Linked DNA regions of Homo sapiens. The protein of the gene in region 6 purifies or fractionates together with the protein of the main gene of each other region. This does not show direct contact. Each region holds a gene or a part of one and is shown on either strand. Other genes may lie near its edges. The genes, in order: POGLUT3, POGLUT2, SLC25A15, ERGIC2, TTC17, ENPP7 and NAAA.

Region 1 (3,500 bases), on a different chromosome or scaffold from region 6:
GAGCCACCATGTCCGGCCCCTGTAGCCTCATTCTTAAGTTATAATTCCATTATGTTCTGGCTTTCCCATGCTGTTCACTTTCAACCCCACATCTGTCCCACCTCACACTTAACCCTCTCTTTGTGGGTCGCAGTAGTAATTTTCATTCATTTTTATTTTTTTTAACCTTTCAGGAAAATGATGAAGAAGCCAAGAAGATTGCAAAAGAAGGACAGTTGATGGCTAGGGACCTACTACAGCCACACAGGCTTTACTGCTACTATTACCAAGTACTGCAGGTCAGTTCAGAGTGTCCGTCCACACTGCTGGGTCGGGTGTCCTCAGACTACCCGCTTGGCCTGTACACTTCCTGCCTGGCTTCCTGAAGGACTCACAGTCAAGCCTATGGACCACTGGCTAAGCCAAGGCACTTGCCTAGGGAAAGATAGTGCTAAGTCTTCATTTGGTGGCCCCCTTTTTTTTGTTTTTTGTTTGTTTGTTTGTTTTGAGATGAAGTCTCACTCTGTCATGCAGGCTGGAGTGCAGTGTCTCAATCTCAGCTCACTGCAGCCTCTGCCTTCCAGGTTCAAGCAATTCTGCCTCAGACTCCCAAGTAGCTGGGATTACAGGTACACGCCACCATGCCCAGCTAATTTTTGTATTTTTAGTAGAAACGGAGTTTCGCCATGTTGGCCAGGCTGGTCTTGAACTCCTGGCCTCAGGTGATCTGCCTTGCCTTGGCCTCCTGAAGTGCTGGGATACAGGTGTGAGCCACCACGCCCAGCCGTGGCCTCCATATTTTCATCTTTATTCCATATTATGTAAAACGACGCTGGGAGCCCTCACAAATATAGATTAGCAACTCCTCCCATCTTCTCAGTGCTCTCTTTTATTAAATGCTTTATTGAATTCCTAGTGTAGGTGTTCTGGAACCTCAGAGAAAAACATTTTTTCTTATTTGGAAAACAAGATGGTTGGACTGGAGATCATTAACATCCCTTTTTACTCAAAATGTCGCCTCCTTATTCTCCTTGATACTTAAGATTCATGCCTTTTATAGTACAAGGCAGAATGCAAATATTTAGCTTGCTGTAGCAAACAAACTAATGAGAAATATGTATAACAGTTCTAACACCTTAGGGCTGAATCCTGAAGTATAGTGTTTATTGGGAATCCGAGGATTGGTCTTTTGAGTAACTACCTTGAGTTTTACTCAGAAAAATCTAGACAGGAAGAATAAAAAAAGGAAATTATGTTCTTGTTTTTAACCTAAATTTATTTTTCTGTAGGCATAGTAAAAGTAAATTTCCCTAGATGCTTGTGGATACTACCCTCTCATATTTTCATTTTCATAGAAAAATAAAAATGATAAGTTACACTATTTACTAGAAGCAGCCCTTCCTTCCCTTAAATTGGTCTGTCCCCTCTGTTGGTCTAGCTTTAATCGTTAAACAGTTTTTTTAACAATTTCTTGGCCGGGTGCAGTGGCTCACACCTGTAATCCCAGCACTTTGGGAGGTCGAGGAGGGTGGATCACCTGAGGTCAGGAGTTCAAGACCAGCCTGGCCATCATGGTCAAACCCCGTCTCTACTAAAAATACAAAATTAGCCAGGTGTGGTGGCACATGCCTGTAATCTCAACTACTCAGGAGGCTGAGGCAGGAGAATCGCTTGAACCTGGGAGGCAGAGGTTGCAGTGAGCCTAGATTGCACCACTGCACTCCAGCCTGGGCAACAAGAGCAAAATGCATCTAAAAATATATATATTTCTTACTCGGTCACCTAGGCTGGAGTGCAGTGGCATGATCACAGCTTACTGCAGCCTCAACCTCCTAGGATCAAGCGATTCTTCCCCCCTCCCACCTCAGCCTCCCACTAGTAGCTGGGACTACACCACCACACTCAGCTAATTTATTTATTTTTTTTAGAAACAAGCTCTTGCCGTGTTTCCCTGGTTCCTCAAGTGATTCTCCAGCCTCAGCCTCCCAAATAGTTTCAATTTTAATGTTAGGAATTTCTCTCTCTAAAATATTAATTAGGCTTATCTACTGTGTCAACATTTTGTTGCATTTGGTCCAGTACCAGGAATATACAGCAAAAGGGACATGGAATCATTGAATTGAAATATCCAATTTATGTCTGGGCAGGGTGGCTCATGCCTGTAGTCCCAGCACTTTGGGAGGCTGAGGTAGGCAGATTGCTTGAGTCCAGGAGTTGAAGACCAGGCTGTGCAACATGGTGAAACGCCATCTCTACAAAAAATGAAAAAAATTAGCTGGGCATGGTGGTACGCGCCTGTAGTCCCAGCTACTTAGGAGACTGAGGTGTAAGGATCACTTGAGCCTAGGATGTTGGAGGCTGCAGTGAGCCAAGATCACGCCACTGCACTCCAGCCTCAGTGACAGAGTAAGACCGTGTCTCAAAAAAAAAAAAAAACAAAAACAAAAAAAACTCCATTTATAGAAATATTTCACTCAGGGCCACAGTGGAGGAACATTACACAGACCTGTTGCCATTCAAAAATGCGTGTGACTATAGGCCTAAAAGAAAGAATGTGTGAGACTGCCAACTTTTCAGATGGTTATCTTGTTTGTTTGCTGGCTTGAGTATTCAACAAAGTTAATTATTCAATAACAAGTGGAAAATAAATGCTGAGAGCTGCTGTTTGTTTCAGGTAGGGACGTCTGGCTTGGCATCCCTTTTGTAGAGGCTTCCAACCAACACATAAAATTGTGGATTGGGGTTTCTTGCTAGATTATGAATTATAACTAGTGCCTGTGATAGCTAAAGTTAAAATGTAACTTTAGGACTGGAATAAACCAGACCTTTGGTTTTAGTCTGCAGACACACAGCAACTAGAAAAGATGGCGTGACTGCGGATGGGAGTGGGTGGGGGAGTCAACAGAATGCAGTGTGAACTAACCTTTCAGTTCCCTTTAAACCCACGTTTCAGAAATATGCCGAGCGCCAGTCCAGCAAACCCGAAGTACGTGATGGAATGGAACTTGTTCCTCAGCCAGAAGATAGCACAGCCATCTGCCAGTGCCACAGGAAAAAGCCTTCAAGAGAAGAACTTTGAGTCAGCCCAGAATCACACTCCTGTGTATCCCGGCTACACTTTAAGGAAAGATTGAATCTAAGCTGTGAAGGACAGTATAGAAGACTGCACCAAGTGGACTAGTTCTCCCGGTGGCTTTATATATGTAGATGGATATAGCAGTACTGGTTGAGTATCCCTCATCTGAAATGCTTAGGACCAGGAGTGTTTCAGGCTTCAGATTTTTTAAGATTTGGGAATATTTGCATGTACATAATGAGGTATCTTGGGGATGAGATCCAAGTCTAAACACAAAATTCATTTATATTTTATATATACCTTGTTCACATACCCTGAAGGTAATTTTATATAATATTTTTAATAATTTGTGCATGAAACAAAGTTTGTATACATTGAACTGTCAGAAAGCAAAGGTGTCACTATCTTAGCGACCCAAGTGGTGGTGTCAGCACTCAAAAAGTTT
Region 2 (2,598 bases), on a different chromosome or scaffold from region 6:
GTTTCCCAATATCATGGGTCCTTTTGAAATGTATTGTACCTGGAGAGCATCCAGGATGTTCACGTAATAGACTTTGGCCTGTAAATGGGAAGCTGCCTGCCCATAGATGGCACGGCAGTTCCCCTAGGCTGAACACAGCGGGCACTGCATCTTACATTAACTCTCCACTCTGCATGTGAAACAAAAAGCTAGGCTGGGTGCGGTGGCTCGTGCCTGTAATCCCAGCACTTTGGAAGGCTGAGGCAGGCAGATCACCTGAGGTCAGGAGTTCAAGACCAGCCTGGCTAACATGGTCAAACCCCATCTCTACTAAAAATACAAAAATAAGCTGGCGTGGTGATGGGTGCCTGTAATCCCAGCTACTGGGGAGGCTGAGGCAGGAGAATCACTTGAACCTGGGAGGCGGAGGTTGCAGTGAGCCGAGACCACACCATTGCACTCCAGCCTGGGCAACAAGAGCAAAACTCCGTCTCAAACAACAACAACAAACAACAACAACAACAACAAAAAGCTAAACTGTGGCCTTGATTACACTTTCTCTTTCAAGTAGCGTTGCTCTGAGCCACAAGCATTGCCTCCGCTAGCAATGTGAAAATTGTAAGATGGCCAGTCTGGCAGAAGTCACTAACAGGCTCCAGGTTAAAATGAGGGATTGATTCAGAAGTAGATGCAGCCATAAATACAGAAATAAAGAGGGATGGAATGCAATAAACTTTAAGCTAATTGTCTCCTGAAATTTGTGAAGGCAGCTGGCTAAGCTTCATCTTGCGTTTACAAAGTCATCAGTTTGCTTGGTGTACAACCTTGTCTCTCCAGGAGAGGCTTAGTTCTAGAAGGTCCAATATGACTTTTCAAACTTTTAAGTCTTAGAAACCTCCCTCTGATTTAAACAAACATACTCTGTTAAATGTTCTGTTTTACCATGAGACTACCCCCAAAGATATTATTTCCCACAGTTGCCCCAATGTATACATACTCTGAAGAGCAGTTTGCAGATGCCTGCATGGGAAAAATGGATTCTATTACAGGATTTTGTCGTTGTTCTTCCTGTAGGCCAAAAAGATAGCAAAAGCAGGACAAGAATTTGCAAGAAATAATCTCATGGGCGATGACATATTCTGTTATTATTTCAAACTTTTCCAGGTCAGTATTTTCCAAGAAAATCATCACGTAACTTATAAGTAGACATGTTAAGAACAAATAATATTTTACTTAACAATTTCTAAACATATGTTACTATAGGGAGATATATATACTTCTGTGGATGAAAATCAGAGACAAATATTAAGTAATCATAAAAAAATAGTTGAAAACCAAAGATTAGCTAATGGAAAATGTTACAATATTAAGCGAAAACTATTAATATTAGAACTATGTGATGTCTGACTAAGAAATTGGCCTCTGATCCTACAAAGTTACAGTGCATGGATTTGTATGTTCTCTTTGTGTTACATTGCTGCTGCCTTACCATTTCTTTGTCTAAACAGTGCCAGGTGTGTTTGGGCCTCTTGTCTTGACTCTGTATGAGCCATGACTTCCCTTGGAAATTATTTCCATGGACCTAAGCATTTAGAGATTGTAATCAAGCATATCCGACGATTTAAAGGACTCTTTTAAAAATGTGGTAGTAGGCCGGGTGCGGTGGCTCACACCTGTAATCCCAGCACTTTGGGAGGCTGAGGCAGACAGATCACCTGAGGTGAGGAGTTTGATACCAGCCTGGCCAACATGGTGAAACCCCGTCTCTACTAAAAATACAAAAATTAGCCGGGTGTGGTGGTGCACACCTATAATCCCAGCTATTCGGGAGGCTGAGGCAGGAGAATCACTTGAACCCGGGAGGTGGAAGTTACAGTGAGCCGAGATCGTACCCCTGCACTCCAGCCTGGGTGACAAGAGTGAGATTCTGTCTCAAAAAAATAAACAAACAAAAAAAAAAAAACAAAATCAGGTAGTAAACAAGTTCTTGGCTAATAACAGTACTAGATCTAGAGTAAGAGTTTTATCTCACAGTTGCAGATACTGAGCCCCATATCTGAGGCTCTGCTACAGATCAAAGTTGGTGTATTTCTGGCCTGTACTGGCTCCTCCCGATTTTGTAACCTTCCCTTGATAGAGGGAAGCAGAGGACAAACCGTGTAAAATGAATAAACTGGGGGGATTTACCATGTGAATTTCTAAGGATCCATGGGGCAGTGTTCATTCATTTAGCATAGGTACTTAGCACAGTGCTTCACTCAGAGTAAGCACATGATAAATGAAGATGATGATGGAGGCTTGTGCAAGCCATGATAAGGAAAGCAGAATAGTCTCTGTCTTCACATTCTCAGTCTAGGGAAGATTGTGTGCAAAATTATTTTTACTGTGAGGCAGAAGACGGTTAAAAAAAAAAGTCATGGAAATTTAGGATAGCATAAAGAGGTGTCTGTTAGGAATAGGCAGCCAGTGTTCAAAGGATGGCCTCCTCTCAGATGCTCTACTGTTGATGTTCAGAACTGGTATATATGACGGACTATGCAGATCACAGTTTGACACACATGAGTTAAATGAATCATAGTCTTCATATATTCTAGCCTCTCTCATTGGGTGGATATAAAG
Region 3 (3,500 bases), on a different chromosome or scaffold from region 6:
CACAACACTCTTCTAGGGCTGGAAGGGATCTTCTATCCCAACTCCCATGAACCAGGAACTCGCAGAGAAGCCTTTCTTCTGAAACACTTCTCAGACTTTTCCCCGTATTCGTTTTTTTTTTTTTGAAAGAGTCTCACTGTGTCACCCAGGCTGGAGTGCAGTGGCATGATCTTGGCTCACTGCAACCTCTGCCTCCCTGGTTCAAGCGCTTCTTGTGCCTCAGCCACCAGAGTAGCTGGGATTACAGGCGTGCACCACCAGGCATGGCTAATTTTTAGTAGAGACGGGGTTTTGCCATGTTGGCCAGGCCTCAACTGATCTGCCTGCCTTGGCCTCCCAAAGTGCTGGAATTACAGGTATGAGCCACCACGCCTGGCCTCCCCATATTCTTGAACTCTTACTGGATTCCAGTTTCACAACCCTGCTGGTGACATTTGGCTGCTGGTACTAAATCCATACATGAGGTGAATGCTTCTGTTTTGTATTTGTGCATTCATCCCTCTGCCTAGTTTAGATTTCCAGTTTAGCAATTTCACCTAATACCATTGAGCTTGCAGACTTGTACTGGCTTCACCCACTCCTGTGGCACCATTTTACCCTCGTCTGTGTTGCTGAGGTGGTAGGTCACCAGTTGAACTGGAAAATCTTTTTGTGATGCAGCAACTTTTGGTTAAACGTTTTTTCTGGGTTTTCATCTGTGGCAGTTACATTGCACATCTGGTTGCTCCAGGTTGGATTGTGGGCATGTGGGGATAGGCTTAGAACCTAGATTTATTTAAAACTTAGGGCAGACACACTGAAGTATTAATAGTGCATGTTTTTCAGTGGGGGACTATGGGCAATATTTTCCTCCTTTCCTTTAGGTTTTTTTGTGGCGTTTTATTTTGTCATGTCACGATGTATCTTGGCTTTGGCTGTTGTAACAGAATACTACAGATTGAGTGGCTTAAACAAACATTTCTCACAGTTCTATGGTCTGAAAAGTCTAATATCAAGGTTCCAGCAGATCTGGTGTCTGATGAGGGCTTGTTCTTAATTTGAACATAGCCGTCTTCTCACTGTGTCCTCATATGGCAGAGAGTGAGCGAGCTCTCTGGCCTCTTCTTCTAAGGGACTAATCCCATCACAATGGCCCTATCCTCATGACCTCATCTACACCTGATTACTCCCAAAGGCCCCATCTCCTAACACCATCACCTTGGGGGGATAAAATTCAGTCCATAGCGCTGTGTGTAATCAAAAGAATATGGTTGTTGCAGTCAGGAAGACCTGGGTTCACATCCTAGCACTGCCACTTAGTAGCTGTGTGACTGGCCACATTATGTCATCTCTAAGTGTCACTTCCCATAGGGAACTGGGGTGCTGCTGTCTGCTTCATAGGGTTGTGGGATCCTTAGATGAAACAGCACATGCAAGTTTCCTTCCTTTCATCATTTTTTTTTTTTTTTTGAGACGGAGTCTCACTCTGTTGCCCAGGCTAGAGTACAGTGGCACAATCTCAGGTCACTGCAAGCTCTGCCTCCTGGGTTCACGCCATTCTCCTGCCTCAGCCTCCTGAGTAGCTGGGACTACAGGCACCCACCACTACGCCCGGCTAATTTTTTTTTTTTTTTGTATTTTTAGTAGAGACAGGGTTTCACCATGTTAGCCAGGATGGTCTCGATCTCCTGACTTCGTGATCCGCCCGCCTCGGCCTCCCAGAGTGCTGGGATTACAGTTGTGAGCCACGGCGCCCGGCCCTTTCATCATTTTTTTAGACATGGAGGTCTCTCTTTGTTTCCCAAGCTGGAATGCAGTGGCTGTTCACAGATGCAGTCATAGCACTGTAGCCTAGAACACATGGGCTCAAGTGATCCTCCCACCTCAGTCTCCTAAGTAGCTGTAATCACAGGTTCATGCCCTCACGCCCGGCTCCTTACCCTGCTTTATCACCAAAGTGCTGTCTGTGTGGTGAGTGCCAAAGGAATGAAGAAACTGAGGGGTAACTGTCTGCTTGTGTGCTTTCAGTGATCTGCAGAATGCAGCCGCCGGTTCCTTCGCCTCTGCCTTTGCTGCACTGGTGCTCTGCCCCACGGAGCTCGTGAAGTGCCGGCTGCAGACCATGTATGAGATGGAGACATCAGGGAAGATAGCCAAGAGCCAGAAGTAAGCACCACTTGGGCACAAACGTCAGGTCTCTATTGCCCTAGTGTATTGGATGATTTTTCATTTTACATTGTACTAAAGTGGCAGATGTGGAAGCCAATTTATCTACTCCAAAATATTGTTTCTAGAATGCTTTCCCCTATCAGAGATTTTCTGAAAGGATTGGCTGTGATGGGACCCACCACCCACTGCATAAAAAGTCTTAGACAGATATTTAATACCCCAGAACTGGAGAAGCCAGGAGCTTAACACCCTTTTTGGCCTCTTGGAAACATAAGGCATGATCTTCAGCCATTTTTGGAGGTACATAATGGGTGGCTTTTGAACTTTGCCTTAGACCTGAGCCTTCATAAGTGCCAATTTGGATTCTGAGATGAATATTTGATCCCCACTTCAGGTTTCGTATGGGTATTCAGGCTGATTGACCCAGATCCTAGAGGTAACTATTCTTACCCCACTTATCCCCAGTCCTTCAAGTGTACCTGCAGATGGCCCAAGTTCTGAGAACATTAATCAATACTTTTATAAGCATAGCTACTCTTCAGTGATTAAATCACTCTCTAGCTCACTCTTGAAAACACATTCTCATTATCCTTTGAGAGTACTGTTTCATACACAATTTGATTTACTTGAATTGGAAAGCAATTTATTATCCTTATTAATTGCAAAACTTGCTTACTTATCTTGACATCTGGCTGAGTTCTGACCAAGGATATTGCTGTGGTTAACTCAAAGCCTATAAATCTGCTGGGAAAAAGCAGTAGATAAATTGACCATTTTCAAGGATCAGTCCCCACTCAGTGAGAATGGGGTTTGGAAAAGTGCCCTATTTTCTGCACCCTTGAGATTCATTACAGCCAACTTGAATCTAATATTCATTGCCTAGAAGTCCAAGAGTGTAAGTCTTTAAAACTTTTTATTGAAATAATACACATAGTATCATGAATGCACATTGAAGTCACAGTATGCAGCTCTATAAATAGTGACACAATTTATGTGCCTTTGTAACCTGTGTCCAGATTAACAAATAGAACATTAACAACACCCAGAAAGCTGCCCTCATGTTCCTTGGAAGTAATTCAAGGTAATTAAAAGATAGTAATAGTTATATCCAAAGGACTTAGGCAGATCAACACCTTGAATTATCAGTTGACTTTGTATTTGAGGTCTAGCAGTGTTCACACAAGGCATGGTATGGTAGCTTGGGGCTAAGACTCGGATTGGAAGGGAGGTTAATTGTGTTGAGCTGGATTACTTTGTTACATTCCATGTAGCAGTGCTGCAGGAAGGGCTGGCTGATGGGGAATACCTGACAGTGTCTTCTGAAGCTCTCAGAAGGAAAATAGTTTTTAAAT
Region 4 (3,500 bases), on a different chromosome or scaffold from region 6:
CAGAATGGCATGTGCTCCTCAGTAACTGTCACCATAAGAGAACTGAGATCATATTTCATAAATATCCCAGAGACTCCATGGCTGCCTGCAGCATGGTTAATGATACGTTCCTAAAAGGGAGGCAAAAGGAAGGGGAGAAATAGGAGGAAGAGAGAAACAGAATTCATGTCATCTGGTTACTTACATACATTCAATATTAAGCCCTGAAGCCCTACTGTAAAAGAAGGACATCCACATTTCCTTATGAACTGTCCTACTAGACTAAGCTCTTCAGAGACAAATTATTTTGTATTCTTTGTGTGGTTAGCTTTTGAAACTATCAAAAGAGCAGAATCATTCTTTTTTTCTCAAAAAGGTCACCTTAGATACAAGTTTTCTACTGAGCTCAAGAGCTTACAAATATGTATGGCATGTTCCTCATGCTATAACTAAACTGCAAGCTTTAGGAATACAAATAATGAGGTTAACTACTACCAAGGGAAATTAAAACAGTTTTACGTAGGGCATTACAAAACTCTTTCCCTATTACTAGCACAATACAGCCTTATAAGCCAACTGATCAAGTTTCCAATAAAGTGACTACATCTTAAAGCTCTAAAATGCTCAATATCATGCTGAGTTATAAATATATTGTCACTACCTATAAGGGTAGAAACTGTTTTAGGGATCAGGGCATATACATAATGAAAGACTAATAATGATTCACTTTGGGTTCCAGGACTAATGAATGTCAGCCCTCTCCCTCCCACCCCCTATCCTGCATTTTACCAACCCCAGTTACTCCATTCTTTTTTAAGTTAAAAAACTATTTTAGTCACCCTATCAGTATAAACACATCCTTCAACAGTCAAATGCCCTGGGATTCTATTACATATGTATTTTTGGCTTTGTTATTTTAAAAATATACCCTGGAGATATTTTCCTATCAGTATATAGAAATCCTTCTCATTTGATTTTTAACAATTGCATCTTCCTCCAGTGTGTGTAGATGTACCATCTGGGTTGTTTCTAATCTTCTACTATTACAGATAACAATGCAACGAATAGCCTGAAACACACATTTTTATATTTTTGCCCACCGTATCTTTGGAATAGCTTTCTCGAAGTGCAATTGCTGAGTCAAAGGATAAATGCATAGGTCCTTTTGCAGATACTGCTAAACTACCTTCCTCAAAGATTATGCCACTTTGCATCCCCATAGCACTGCATGTTTGCCTATTTTCCCCAAAGTCTTCTCAACTGTATGTATTGCCTTGAGGTGTTTGCCAATCTTACAGGTGAGAAATGGAATCTCCCTACTCCTTAAAGAAATGTTGAAAAGCACAATATGTTCTGGTATAAACTTTACCTAGTTTCTTTGTGTGAGTGTATATACACACATACCTATACATATATATGCAGTTATATGAACTTGTACTTTCTCCCAAGCCAAGTGAAAAGCTATAGACACATGACACTTCACCCCTAAAAACTCCAATACCTAATCTCATAAGAACAAAAAAAAAAATTCCACAATTATTGAGGGCATGGTCATCATGAGTTATAAGGCTAGTAAAAGAAAACACTATATAAAGGAAAGCAAAATTTTTAAAGCACTTAAATTTTGCCTTAGAATTCTTCTGGATACAAGTGTTTGAATTCACCATTCAAACACAAAAATAAGAAAACATGACCCCAAAGTAGATAAGAAATCTATTAAACTGTCCAATTCCAAAACTTTGCTCATCACTGTCAGTATTTACTTATATGGCCATACCACCCTGAGGTAGTGGAATGTTCTTCATCACAATCAGATGAATACAAAGCATTAATTTAGGAAGGCAAACCCTCTAAATTTGCTATCTAATCCATGATAACCATGTATGCCCAGAGAAGGTAGTACATTTATTAATAAATAAGTAACAGAATTCAAAGAATCTGCTGCCAGATCAAGAACTGCTTATATCAATTTATGAGAAAACATTTATAAAATTAAGACATTAAGAATAAAATAATTAAGGCCATCACAATTTAACAATTTTAAGTCTTAATGCAATAGAAAACCTTTCAGATTTTTTAAATATCTACTTTTATTGCTTTAGAATATACTAATATTCATTTCTGACATATTTCTGATTTAAAATAAAATGTTAATTCATTTCAAAACTTCCACAGATTTTTAAATGAGGGAAGACACCAAGTAAAACACCACCTTATTTTGTAGCCAGGAAACTTTAAAATGCTTTTTTAAAAAAATCACCAAATTATTTTACCGGTTGGATTCAACTTACCCTTTCTGTCACAGAAAACTGATGGGTGTCTGCTGATATTTTATATGTATGTAGTTTTGTTGGCACAACTGTAATAAAATATTGGAACATCTGGTTGTCTAGAATACAAAAAAAACTTTTTATCAATTCAGTAGCAACAAAACTACTGCCAAATATATTCTTCTATTAAACACATTTAACCTGAAATTTAGCTGGATGTGGTGGCTCACACCTGTAATCTCAGCACTTTGGGAGGCTGACGAAGGAGGACTGCTTGAGTGTGGGAGTTCAAGAACAGTCTCGAACTTGAGTCTGGGAGTTCGCGACCAGTCTGGTCAAGAGAGCCAGACCCTGTCTCTACAAAAAATTTAAAAATTAACTGGGCATGGTGGTATGCACCTGTGGGTCCCAGCTGTTCAGGAGGCTGAGGCAGGAGGATCATATGAGCCCAGGAAGTCAAGGCTGCAGTGAGCCATGATTGTGCTACTGCACTCCAGCCTGGGCAACAGAGCAAGAACCTGTCTCAAACAAATAAAAAATAAAAACATTTAATCTGAAATGTAATGTTACATACAACTTAATGTCTAACAAAAAAAATTTTTAAAAGAACCAATGAAAGCAACATATTTATACTCGGTAAAACAAGTTCTCAGCAAGCATAAGATGGGCAACACAGATGTTTAAAAAAATGAATTGGTGACTTAGTTAAATATTCCTTAAAATCGTTAACATCCTTTTATCAATTATGGAAAAGTAGCATTTTTCTTTTTCCTTTTTTTTTTTTTGAGATAGGGTCTCACTCCATCGCCCAGGCTGGAGTGCAGTGGCGCAATCACGGCTCACTGCAGCCTTGACTTCCTGGGCTCCAGCAATCCTCCCGCCTCAGCCTCCTGCGTAGCTGGGACTACAATGCACGCCACCAAGCCCAACTAAATTTTTTTCATTTTTAGTAGAGACAGGGTTTTGCCATGTCGCCCAGGCTGGTCTCAAACTCCTGGGCTCAAGTGATCCTCCTGCCTCAGTCTCCCAAAGCGCTGGGATTATAGGTGTGAGCCACTGCACCCAGCCAGCATTTCTTTATAGTACAGAAACTAAGAATAAAATAAAATTATAAGAGAATAACCACCACAAGACATATTTTCAGTTTCTACTAATATCTTAAGATATACACTAAACCAAAATCAAATTAGCTAGCCTTTGAATAAATACAAGGAACTGATATTACAGTAGGAAGAAAACTAAAGAAACTAC
Region 5 (3,500 bases), on a different chromosome or scaffold from region 6:
ACTCTCAGGCCTCAATTCAGACCTACTGAATCATAATCTGCATTTCAACAAGATCTCCAGGAGACTGATATGCATATTAGGGTAGGAAAAAAAACTGATGTTGAACACAGAATGCAAATAACTGTTAAGACTTCTAGGATCTACAAGACTTGTTTTTTATTTCAAAATGTAAATTTGAAAAAAGCAAGGTAGACCAAACCAGCTCCCCAGGCCTCCTGGTATACCCACAGTGATGAATCATGCTTTCGAGATGTAGGGAAGTCATAAACACAACTTCACACTGCTTTAAGGCTACAAGAAAGTTATGATAGTAAAGCATGCTAAAAGTGAATTTCCTAACCTGTCTTCAATTACTTGGAGTCACTACTTACCTAATTGTGCCTCTTTTGCCATCTGAGTCTCATGAATGATATTTCTTAAGATTTGCTCCTCCTGAATCAGTTTATGTTTTTCTAGGATTTCCTGCTGTCTCAGGTAGTGGTCATGCTGCTTTTGATACTCTTTTAACTCATTCAGTGTTCGCTGGAGAGATCTTAACATTTTTTAATACCAGGAAAAAGTTAGAGCTATAAAATCATAAATTTTAAACCCACTTAAATGCACAGATTTTTCTGGTTCTCAGCAACAATTACTGTGTGTTTTCCTTTTATTTAACATACAACCCTGTATCACCAGTTCAAGAATACTAGGGCAAAAAGATAAATGTGAAATTCTTCCTTTAAATACAACTTTTTTAAAAAATGGGGTCTTGCTCTGTTGTCAAGGCTGGATGGAGAGGCCTGATTGTAGCTCACTGCAGCCTTGTACTCTTGGGCTCAACTCCTGGGCTCAAGGGGTCCTCTTGCCTCAGTCTCCTGGGGAGTATCTGGGACTACAGGCACACGCCACCATGCCTGGCTAATTTAGTTTTAGAAACTGGGTCTTGCTGTGTTGCCCAGGCTAGATTTGAACTCCTGGCATCAAGTGATTCCTCCCCTCCACCCTGCCTCAGTCTCCAGAATAACTGGGATTACAGGCATCAGCCATGACACCTGGCAATACAACTATCATGACATCAAATGGTATATTGCATTTTTCAGGTGCCATAAAAAAATACATGACGATATACAAGTTTATGTATTTAACAACTCTATTTCTCTCTACAAAATTTGCATTAGTTCCATCAACATTCAAAGTCTTTCTAGAATCCTTTCCTCCTTTTCACTTTTTCCCTAGATTCTGCTTAAAGACAAAGTTAAGAGTTAGGGGCCACAGTACTTTGCTTTCATACTCTAGCTTATTGGTTACAGGCCAGGAAAAACTACAGAAACTATGCTTCGAAAGGAATATGCTTCACCACCTGATTTCAGTAAATCAGCTGCCTGATTACATTTAATCAGAAAACCCATACTGCCTATTACACACTGTAACATACAGAGATTTTAGGAACTATACAGATTGTGTAAAGATAGAGCCAGCTCAATTATTAAGAGCATGATACTGGAAAAAGCTCAGCCAGGTATAACAGAAACCAGTTATGAATAAGCAAGCTGGCATCCTTTTTACTTCCTACCACATTATGCCTTAAAAAGATTGGAAAAGAAGCAAATACAAAAGTTTAATGAGTTCTAAATCTCTGTTTAATTCTCTACTAACCAAAGTAAACTCAAATATTACAGCTAATTCTGAGATATGAAAAATTCACTTCTGAGTTAACATGAAGTTTCTTAACTAGCCCTACTGATTGAAGGAAATGTTTTTTAACTTATTATACCTCAAGGATCAAATACAATAGAATTCCATTACTGTACAACCTAACACACAATCATGATTAAAACGTGGGCCAAATAATGTCTCTCAATGCCATTTAACTACCTTAACAATAACTCAACCCTAGGAGCCACCACCTCTCTCCAAGAGGAGAAATATCAACTATTGCACATGTAAGTGATTTTACTGAAACTTAGTATATTCTATGCAAATAAAAATGCAGTCAACAAAGTAAGTAGTCAACTAAGTATCCCAGTCTCCCCACCCCAACTGACTTCATAAAAGTAATCAATGGTCAAAATTGTAAACATTTAAGTGACAGCTTTTACTACAAATATTCTCTAGTTGCAGGAATCCATACAATTAAAGATATTCCTCTACACAACCACTGAATTGTGCTAAACCACCAGGACTTACAGAAAAAGGATAGGACTTGCAGTAGTGAAGAGGTTTCTTTCTTAATTCCAGTTACCAAATTAACACTGATATCCCCTACACAGATTTAACCTAAGGTTCGATAGTGCTAATGCTTGAGTGAAATTTTTCCTCTCAATTACCTATGCTGAGCCTCCAATTTCTGCTCCAGTTTTTGCTGACATAGGACAGCATGCTTCCTCTTTATAGCTTGCTCAAACCCAGGTCTGGCCTGCAAAGCGTGGTCATAACAGAGCACTGAGTGGTTATATTCCCCAAGCATCTGAAGAGACAAAAACAAACATACACACACACACACACACACACACACACACACACACACACACACACACACGGAAAAAAAAATGTTAGCCACGGCCTGGTTGCATCTGTCCAAATCCTCTAATGATTTATGAGATCACACCTACCTCTTACTCTACAGTGACCATTATTTTGATCAGTGACCAGATCCCTACAATATTAAGGCATACTATAGGATGGTTTAGTTGGCAGGTATTGCTAACCTTAAAAGGTGTACCCTGTAGAAGTTTAAAATTCCAATTTAATTATTATTATTGTTTTTTTGGCAAGAGGCTAGAATAATTACATTACTGTGTTGAGGATTTTTCTTCCTCCTAATTTCATTTCCATCGTTCAGACCAAAAAAGGAATGGAAAAAAGTAACATTCTACTGAGGGGGGAGAAAAAAAAAAAAAAAAGAAAGTGGCAACTAGCATGACTCATGAAACAAAGAGTAGTACTTACTGCATATATATTCCCCAAAGTGTAATAGCTGGTGAAGAAGTCACTGTCATCCAGAGCTGCATGGACCACGACAGCAGCATCAGCAGAGAAGTGTGCTCTGTGTAGAACGTTTGCCAGGTTGACCAGGGCAATGTCTTTATTGTGCCTAAGGAAAGCAGCACATATTCCATGATTATGTAGAACCACTTGACAAGGAAAAATGACATTCAAAGTTACTTGTGCTTAGGAAACTAAGATATAGGTGGAGAAAATAAGATAATCATAGTGTTTCATTTTTAAATTATTGATGGCTCTTAATCTGATAGCTACAAATTTTGTCACTAAAATAAGGTATTGCAGACACTGTATGATTTTACAATTTATTTAGGGCTTATATTTGCTTTAAGAAAAGTTAAACTTAGTTTATGATAATTCCATTCAAGTATCATGTGAATCATAGGGCATCTACATATTTTTTCCTTAATGGAAATGGAAAGTATATTACACAATTATCACTTTGAACTTTTTGAGATCTGTGATTTTTTTTTTTTTTTTGTGGTGGGACTTATTTCTTTGAACAGGGATGGAGAAAA
Region 6 (3,500 bases):
GTCGGAGGGAGAACTGCACCCTTGGGCCCTGCAGCATTGGGGGTGAGGGTCGGACAGGGAAGATCACTGTGACTCAACAAGAAAGCATTTAACAATTAGACGACTTTCTCCCTTTCCACATCCCTGTCACAGCTGAACAGCTAAATTCTAAAGGGCCAAAGACAAAATGAGAGGTGGGTTACAGTATTGACCCAGGAACCCCCCCACCCACCCCCAGTTTGCAATGCTCTGGGGGCTTCCTGGCCCAGAGGCGAGGCTTCCAGTAAACAAAGTCAGTGGAGGTTTCCAAGATGACGCTGGAATAAATGTCAGAGCCCATGCCCACCCCAGAGCCAAGTTATCCACTCAAGCCGGGGTTCCCTCACTCCAGAAGGATCATAGACACACTCAGGGCTCCTTCCACCGGCTGGTGAGCAGGAAGCCAAGGTAGAGACCCTGGCATCACAAGGCTCTTGATCCAATGAAAGAATATCCTGGGGGAGTGGACGGGCAGGTGGGATGGACAGTGATGAGGCAGACACTGCGTATCTGGGAACATTTTTTTTTTTTTTTTGAGACGGAGTCTCGCTCTGTCGCCCAGGCTGGAGTGCAGTGGCGCCATCTCCGCTCACTGCAAGCTCTGCCTCCCGGGTTTACACTATTCTCCTGCCTCAGCCTCCCAAGTAACTGGGACTACAGGCGCCCGCCACCACGCCTGGCTAATTTTTTTGTATTTTCAGTAGAGACAGGGTTTCACCGTGCTAGCCAGGATGGTCTCCATCTCCTGACCTCGGGATCCACCCGCCTTGGCCTCCCAAAGTGCTGGGATTACAGGCATGACCCACTGCGCCCGGCCTCTGGGAACATCTTTATACTGATGTCTTGTTTAGTGCTCAAGTCCAGTGGGCACCTGTTGTTTCCTCTATAAAATCAGGTTTTACCCCCATAGAACATGAGATCAGGGATGTTTTAGAAATTAAAGGCCCCGCAGCTGCAGCTAGGAGCAGGGATGGGTGGGTGGAACAGAGAAGTAGGCACGTGGGGGACAAATGTGTTCACAGGCATGAGACAAGGGGCAGCCCACTGAGGAGTCCTGTCTTTCACGCTGCCTTGTCTGGCAGGGCCTGAGGGCTGGCTCCTTCTTCTACCCGGGCGGGAACGTCACCTACCAAGGGGTGGCTGTGACGCGGAGCCGGAAAGAAGGCATCGCACACAACTACAAAAATGAGACGGAGTGGAGAGCGAACATCGACACAGTGATGGCGTGGTTCACAGAGGAGGACCTGGATCTGGTCACACTCTACTTCGGGGAGCCGGACTCCACGGGCCACAGGTACGGCCCCGAGTCCCCGGAGAGGAGGGAGATGGTGCGGCAGGTGGACCGGACCGTGGGCTACCTCCGGGAGAGCATCGCGCGCAACCACCTCACAGACCGCCTCAACCTGATCATCACATCCGACCACGGCATGACGACCGTGGACAAACGGGCTGGCGACCTGGTTGAATTCCACAAGTTCCCCAACTTCACCTTCCGGGACATCGAGTTTGAGCTCCTGGACTACGGACCAAACGGGATGCTGCTCCCTAAAGAAGGGAGGCTGGAGAAGGTGTACGATGCCCTCAAGGACGCCCACCCCAAGCTCCACGTCTACAAGAAGGAGGCGTTCCCCGAGGCCTTCCACTACGCCAACAACCCCAGGGTCACACCCCTGCTGATGTACAGCGACCTTGGCTACGTCATCCATGGGGTGAGTCGCCTGCTGGAGGCACCACCTCCAGGGGCTCCCTCCCCAGGCTCTGGGTCTTCTTTTTTTTTTTTTGAGACCAGGGTCTTGCTCTGTTGCCCAGGCTGGAGTGCAATGGCAGGATCTCAGCTCACTGCAGCCTTAAACTCCCAGACTCAAGCGATCCTTCCACCTCAGCCTCCTGAGTAGCTGAGACCACAGGTGCACACCACCATGCCTGGCTAATTTTTGTGTGTGTTTTGTTTTGTTTTGTTTCATTTGAGACAGAGTTTCACTCTTGTCATCCAGGCTGGAGGGTAATGGTGCCATCTTGGCTCGCTGCATCCTCCACCTCCTGGGTTCAAGCGATTCTCCTGCCTCAGCCCTCTGAGGCATTACAGGCGCCTGCCACCATGCCTGACTAATTTTTTGTATTTTTAGTGGAGACAGAGTTTCACCATGTTGGCCAGGCTGGTCTCGAACTTCTGGCCTCAGGCGATCCACCCGCCTCAGCCTCCCAAAGTTATGGGATTCAGGTGTGAGCCACTGTGCCCAGCTGATGTTTGTATTTTTTTGTAGAGACAGGGTTTTGCATGTTGGCCAGGCTGGTCTCAAACTCCTGGGCTGAAGCGATCCTCCTGCCTGGGCCTCCCAAAGTGCTGGAATTACAGGGGTGAGCCACTGCGTCTGGCCTCTCCTTCCATCTCCATAGAGGCACTTCCTGTTTCTAGCTGGTCCCCAGTTTGAGGAGTGTCAGCACCGAAGGGACACTTCCTTCACTATGCGGTAGGGTGTGTGCACATCTGTGTGTGCCCTCCACATTCAGGCACCAGGCAGTGGGAGTGTGTGTGCACGTCTGTATCCATCATGACCAGGCACTGTGTGATAGGCGTGTGTGTGTGTGTGTGTGTGTGTGTGTGTGTGTGTGTGCGTCCTACGTGTCCAGGGTAAAGTGTAGAAGTCCAGCCCCAAGGGTGACATGGAAGAGGTAGGAAAGAGTCAGGAGCCCAACCTCCCCTCAGCAGACAGCACAGGGATGCTGAGCCGGAAGCGAAGCACAGATTAGGGAGCAGACATCCCCGGAAAGGAAGTGACCGATGGGAGGCAGCGTTCAACACCGCACAGGCGGCAGGCCCCGAAGCCTGGAGCTGCCCGCTCCACTCCCATTTACTCAGGGTCTGGTCTCCGTTCATTTAACTGGACCTTCCCTGAACTTCACTCTTTAGGGTGACTGATCTTTGGAGGCTCAGAATTCGGGGAAACTGAGTCTTGGAACCCCTCCAGCCCTCACGTTGGTGCTCCTTCCTAAGGGGGTGTTCATAGGGTGGATAGGGTAGGCGGAGAGGGTCTGTTGCTCCCAGCAAGGACCCAGGACCCTTGCCCGCTCCCCGGCAGAGAATTAACGTCCAGTTCAACAATGGGGAGCACGGCTTTGACAACAAGGACATGGACATGAAGACCATCTTCCGCGCTGTGGGCCCTAGCTTCAGGGCGGGCCTGGAGGTGGAGCCCTTTGAGAGCGTCCACGTGTACGAGCTCATGTGCCGGCTGCTGGGCATCGTGCCCGAGGCCAACGATGGGCACCTAGCTACTCTGCTGCCCATGCTGCACACAGGTGAGGGCAGGGTGCCCCAAATCCCCGCCTGCTCTGGTGTGTACACGTGTGCACACGAGGGTGCCTGCATGCCTGTGACCAGGACACCCTTGAGCCCCAAGTGGGGCCACCTCCCCTGGCTTTGGAGAACACCAGAATCTCTCACATTCCCACAACACGTGACCTCTCACGAGCACCTCATG
Region 7 (3,500 bases), on a different chromosome or scaffold from region 6:
ACTGATTTACATAGGGCAGCAAAGATTGGTTGGACCAGGTGTACCATTTGCATAGGGCATGAAAAGCTGTCTGCCCCCACCCTAATCTTTTATTATGCTGATGGATTCTCTACCTGGCTGGTGCCATGTTGCCTGCTTCTTTACTGTACACATGGTGACAAAGAAAAGGGAAGATGGGCCGGGCGCGGTGGCTCACACCTGTAATCCCAGCACTTTGGGAGGCCGAGGCAGAGAAGTGAGGAGGTCAGGAGTTCGAGACTAGCCTGGCCAACATGGTGAAACCCCATCTCTACTAAAAATACAAAAATTAGTCAGGTGTAGTGGCGGGTGTCTGTAATCCCAGCCCCTTGGGTGGCTGAGGCAGGAGAATCACTTGAATTCAGAAGGCAGAGGTTGCAGTGAGCCGAGATCACACCACTGCACTCCAGCCTGGGAGACACAGCAAGACTCTGTCTCAAAAAAAAAAAAAGAAAAAAGAAGGGAAGATGGAGCCTCCGTTTTGAACATACCTGGCTCCCAGGTAGCCCTTTTCTGTTGGCACAGCTGCTGGCATTCACCCGTGCAAGCTTCCAGCTTGCTTGTCTATGTTTGCAGCTCGATTTTTCAGGCTGCTCTTTGTTAGAAAAGAATAACTTCTTGGGCTACTTTTTGTTAGAAAGGAAGCCTTGCCAAGGACTCTTCTACCCTCACTATCTGCCTAATTTCTTTCTATCTCCTGTATCAAAAAGGTGAAAGTTCTTGATTTGATAAGGAAAGAAAAAAAATCCATATGCTGAGGTTGCTATGTTCTCTGGTAAGGACGAATCTGCTGGGTGTGATGGTGCTCGCCTGCAGTCCCAGACACTCAGGAGGCTGAGGCGGGAGGATCCCTTCTGCCCAGGAGTTCAGGTCCAACAGACAACATTGAGACCCCATGTCTGGAAAGAAGTAAATAAATGAAATAACAAAAGAAACTCTGGGACCTAGACTAAAAAAAAAAAAGGAAGAAGAAAGAAACTCCATGTCTATTAGCAGTCACTGCCCATTTCCTCCATTTCCTGAGATAGATGCATTTGCACTCCCTGACTTTGTCGCCTGGGTAAAATAAGTCACCAGTGCCTTCAGTATTTTTTATGGATGTTCTTTTGCTTTGCTGTCACAGGTTAGAGAAAATGAATTTGATAGTAGTTGGGGGATGGTATAGGCAACATAAGCAAACAAATATTTCATCACTCCTATTACCTCTGCAAAGGCCAAGGGAAAATTTCTTCTTTGCCCTCTGATGGTTCACTGAAAAGTCAACTCACAAAAGGCAGATTAATTGGAGAAAAGGCATACAAATTTATTTAACATGTACATGACATAGGAGTCTTCAGAATGAAGACCCAAAGATACAGGGGACATTGTCCATTTTTATGCTTAGGTTTAACAAAGTATGGAATGCCATGTAGAAATATGATTGAACAAAAAGGTAGATCCAGTGCTAATAGATGGAGTGGGGAAACCCAGCTAGGCCTGTGTGTCTAGATTCTTCTTGGCCTCTCTGACCATACATTCCCTTCTTCCAGGTACAGGGCAGGATCCTCTCTGGAAAGGGGATCATATGACCTACAGTCAAACAAGTTAGGACAGATCATTTCTTTTTTTTTTTTTTTTTGAGACAGGGTCTCACTCTGTCACCCAGGCTGGAGTGCAGTGGCATGATCTCGGCTCACTGCAACCTTCATCTCCTGGGTTCAAGCAATTCTCCCACCTCAGCCTCCCTGCATAGCTAAGTATAAGGCAGGAAAACTCTACAAAGCCCTGCCATGGGTTTTGTAGAGTTTTCTTGCCTTATGGTTATTGCTGTTAAGGTTTATGGTGCTGAATGACGGAGCCTTTGCAGACACCAATACCTTGAATTGTTCTTTTGTTTGACCCTATCACCACCTCCACCCTTGACAATGTGCCCTGGCAATATCCAGGATGGGTGAGCATACAGTGTACTTCCTTTAAAACATGGCAGCAGAGTGGTTGTGAAGGTGGAGACAGGAAGAGCAGGCCCTCCACCGAAGGATATTCTTGAGCAGATCAGCTCTAGGAAGGAGCCCATATGGAATCTGAAGATTTGGGGAGTGATCCCCTTAAGTATCCTTGCCACAGGCCTTTGGAAGTCATCATGCGCCCTCGGGGTGTCTGAACACCAGTTAAGCTCAGGGCGCTAATGTAGCGCATGCTCTTTCATCCCCAAGCCTTTGCCAGTCTAGTCCATCGAACTAGAACCCTCCTCCCCACTGCCACTCCTCACCCTGCAACCACCACTTTCACCACTCACTTGTGTTTGTCTCTTTAGCTTCAATTCATGCGATGCTTCCCAGCAGTACCTCCTCCACTGCCCTTGGTGAGGATGGGACCCCTACTGTGACGTCCATAGCATCTTATTCTCCTATGTGAACTCTCATTACACTGTGTCACCATTGGTTGTTGACTTTTCTGTCTTCCTCAGAGGCTTGGGGAGAATAGGACCAGGCGACTCATTCACTGCTCTATCCCCCACCAGCACAGTGCCTGGCACAGTGTAGATATTCAAGAAAACCCTGTTTAAATAATAAATGAATGAAGAAGCACAAAAAGTCCTTTGTGAGGGCGATCTGCCTGGAGAGCACACAGCCGGTGTTTGCTGAGCCAGGCCTAGGGCTTGTCAACAGTTCTCTCCTCCTGTCAGAATTTCCTGCTGCTCCTGGCTCCGCTTTGAAGCTGAAATTTCTTCCATCTTAGGAGCCCTGATAACAAGAGGATAAGGTCAGAGCAGATCAAGGTGATAGTCATGACATAACATATCAGGAGAATGTGCTTTGGATCATTTTTGCATCATCTGGTGTGGACCCAACTGCAGGTGGGGTTGCTCACGCAAGTTCATCCTTTCGTTCAGACCCTGAGTGAGTCGGAAAACTTCGAAGCAGCTGTTGGCAAGTTGGCCAAGACTCCCCTTATTGCTGATGTTTATTACATTGTTGGTGGCACGTCCCCCCGGGAGGGGGTGGTCATCACGAGGAACAGAGATGGCCCAGCAGACATTTGGCCTCTAGATCCTTTGAATGGAGCGTAAGTAGAATTGAAAGCTCTGGTCATTTTGTATCAGATAATCATTTTTTTTAATCGGTGAAATGAGGGGTATTTTAAATTTGTTCATATGTCTCCTCTGCTATGTCGTAAATTGCCTTGGATAAGACAAGATGATGTGCTCTGTTGTAGGTGGTTCCGAGTTGAGACAAATTACGACCACTGGAAGCCAGCACCCAAGGAAGATGACCGGAGGTAGGCTGCTACGTGCTTTCTGGTTTGCAGTGTTTTCTTATGGTCAGGAGAATATGCCCATTCTGTCACAGGAACTGGCAAGACCTATGGGTGCTATCCTCTCCCAGAAAATGTACCTGAGCCCCTTCGCCAGTGCCTTGGCTGGGAAGGGAGTGTTGTGTGGAGGAGAGCAGTGGGCAGAGCCTCTCAGCAGCTGGGCGGGTGTTGGGAGGCTGTCAGGGTCA

What was found.
Region 1: the proteins of ENPP7 (region 6) and POGLUT3 purify together in Homo sapiens (affinity purification with mass spectrometry; one large-scale study listed by BioGRID and IntAct). This does not show direct contact.
Region 2: the proteins of ENPP7 (region 6) and POGLUT2 purify together in Homo sapiens (affinity purification with mass spectrometry; one large-scale study listed by BioGRID and IntAct). This does not show direct contact.
Region 3: the proteins of ENPP7 (region 6) and SLC25A15 purify together in Homo sapiens (affinity purification with mass spectrometry; one large-scale study listed by BioGRID and IntAct). This does not show direct contact.
Region 4: the proteins of ENPP7 (region 6) and ERGIC2 purify together in Homo sapiens (affinity purification with mass spectrometry; 2 studies listed by BioGRID and IntAct, with this or other methods). This does not show direct contact.
Region 5: the proteins of ENPP7 (region 6) and TTC17 purify together in Homo sapiens (affinity purification with mass spectrometry; one large-scale study listed by BioGRID and IntAct). This does not show direct contact.
Region 7: the proteins of ENPP7 (region 6) and NAAA purify together in Homo sapiens (affinity purification with mass spectrometry; one large-scale study listed by BioGRID and IntAct). This does not show direct contact.

Annotation. Positions count from the first base shown.
Region 1 is NC_000011.10:108,474,385-108,477,884, reverse strand, and holds part of POGLUT3 (protein O-glucosyltransferase 3 isoform 1 precursor), read left to right. Parts: intron 1-173; coding exon 174-278; intron 279-2,932; coding exon 2,933-3,058; 3' UTR 3,059-3,500. UniProt on the Homo sapiens protein: Protein glucosyltransferase that catalyzes the transfer of glucose from UDP-glucose to a serine residue within the consensus sequence peptide C-X-N-T-X-G-S-F-X-C. Can also catalyze the transfer of xylose from UDP-xylose but less efficiently.
Region 2 is NC_000013.11:102,786,379-102,788,976, reverse strand, and holds part of POGLUT2 (protein O-glucosyltransferase 2 isoform 1 precursor), read left to right. Parts: intron 1-1,053; coding exon 1,054-1,143; intron 1,144-2,598. UniProt on the Homo sapiens protein: Protein glucosyltransferase that catalyzes the transfer of glucose from UDP-glucose to a serine residue within the consensus sequence peptide C-X-N-T-X-G-S-F-X-C. Can also catalyze the transfer of xylose from UDP-xylose but less efficiently.
Region 3 is NC_000013.11:40,803,111-40,806,610, forward strand, and holds part of SLC25A15 (mitochondrial ornithine transporter 1), read left to right. Parts: intron 1-2,007; coding exon 2,008-2,145; intron 2,146-3,500.
Region 4 is NC_000012.12:29,343,173-29,346,672, forward strand, and holds part of ERGIC2 (endoplasmic reticulum-Golgi intermediate compartment protein 2), read right to left. Parts: intron 2,369-3,500; coding exon 2,271-2,368; intron 111-2,270; coding exon 1-110. UniProt on the Homo sapiens protein: Possible role in transport between endoplasmic reticulum and Golgi.
Region 5 is NC_000011.10:43,396,920-43,400,419, reverse strand, and holds part of TTC17 (tetratricopeptide repeat protein 17 isoform 1 precursor), read right to left. Parts: intron 3,074-3,500; coding exon 2,929-3,073; intron 2,447-2,928; coding exon 2,307-2,446; intron 533-2,306; coding exon 372-532; intron 1-371. UniProt on the Homo sapiens protein: Plays a role in primary ciliogenesis by modulating actin polymerization.
Region 6 is NC_000017.11:79,733,943-79,737,442, forward strand, and holds part of ENPP7 (ectonucleotide pyrophosphatase/phosphodiesterase family member 7 precursor), read left to right. Parts: intron 1-1,100; coding exon 1,101-1,727; intron 1,728-3,098; coding exon 3,099-3,318; intron 3,319-3,500. UniProt on the Homo sapiens protein: Choline-specific phosphodiesterase that hydrolyzes sphingomyelin releasing the ceramide and phosphocholine and therefore is involved in sphingomyelin digestion, ceramide formation, and fatty acid (FA) absorption in the gastrointestinal tract.
Region 7 is NC_000004.12:75,920,514-75,924,013, reverse strand, and holds part of NAAA (N-acylethanolamine-hydrolyzing acid amidase isoform 1 precursor), read left to right. Parts: intron 1-2,890; coding exon 2,891-3,063; intron 3,064-3,213; coding exon 3,214-3,276; intron 3,277-3,500.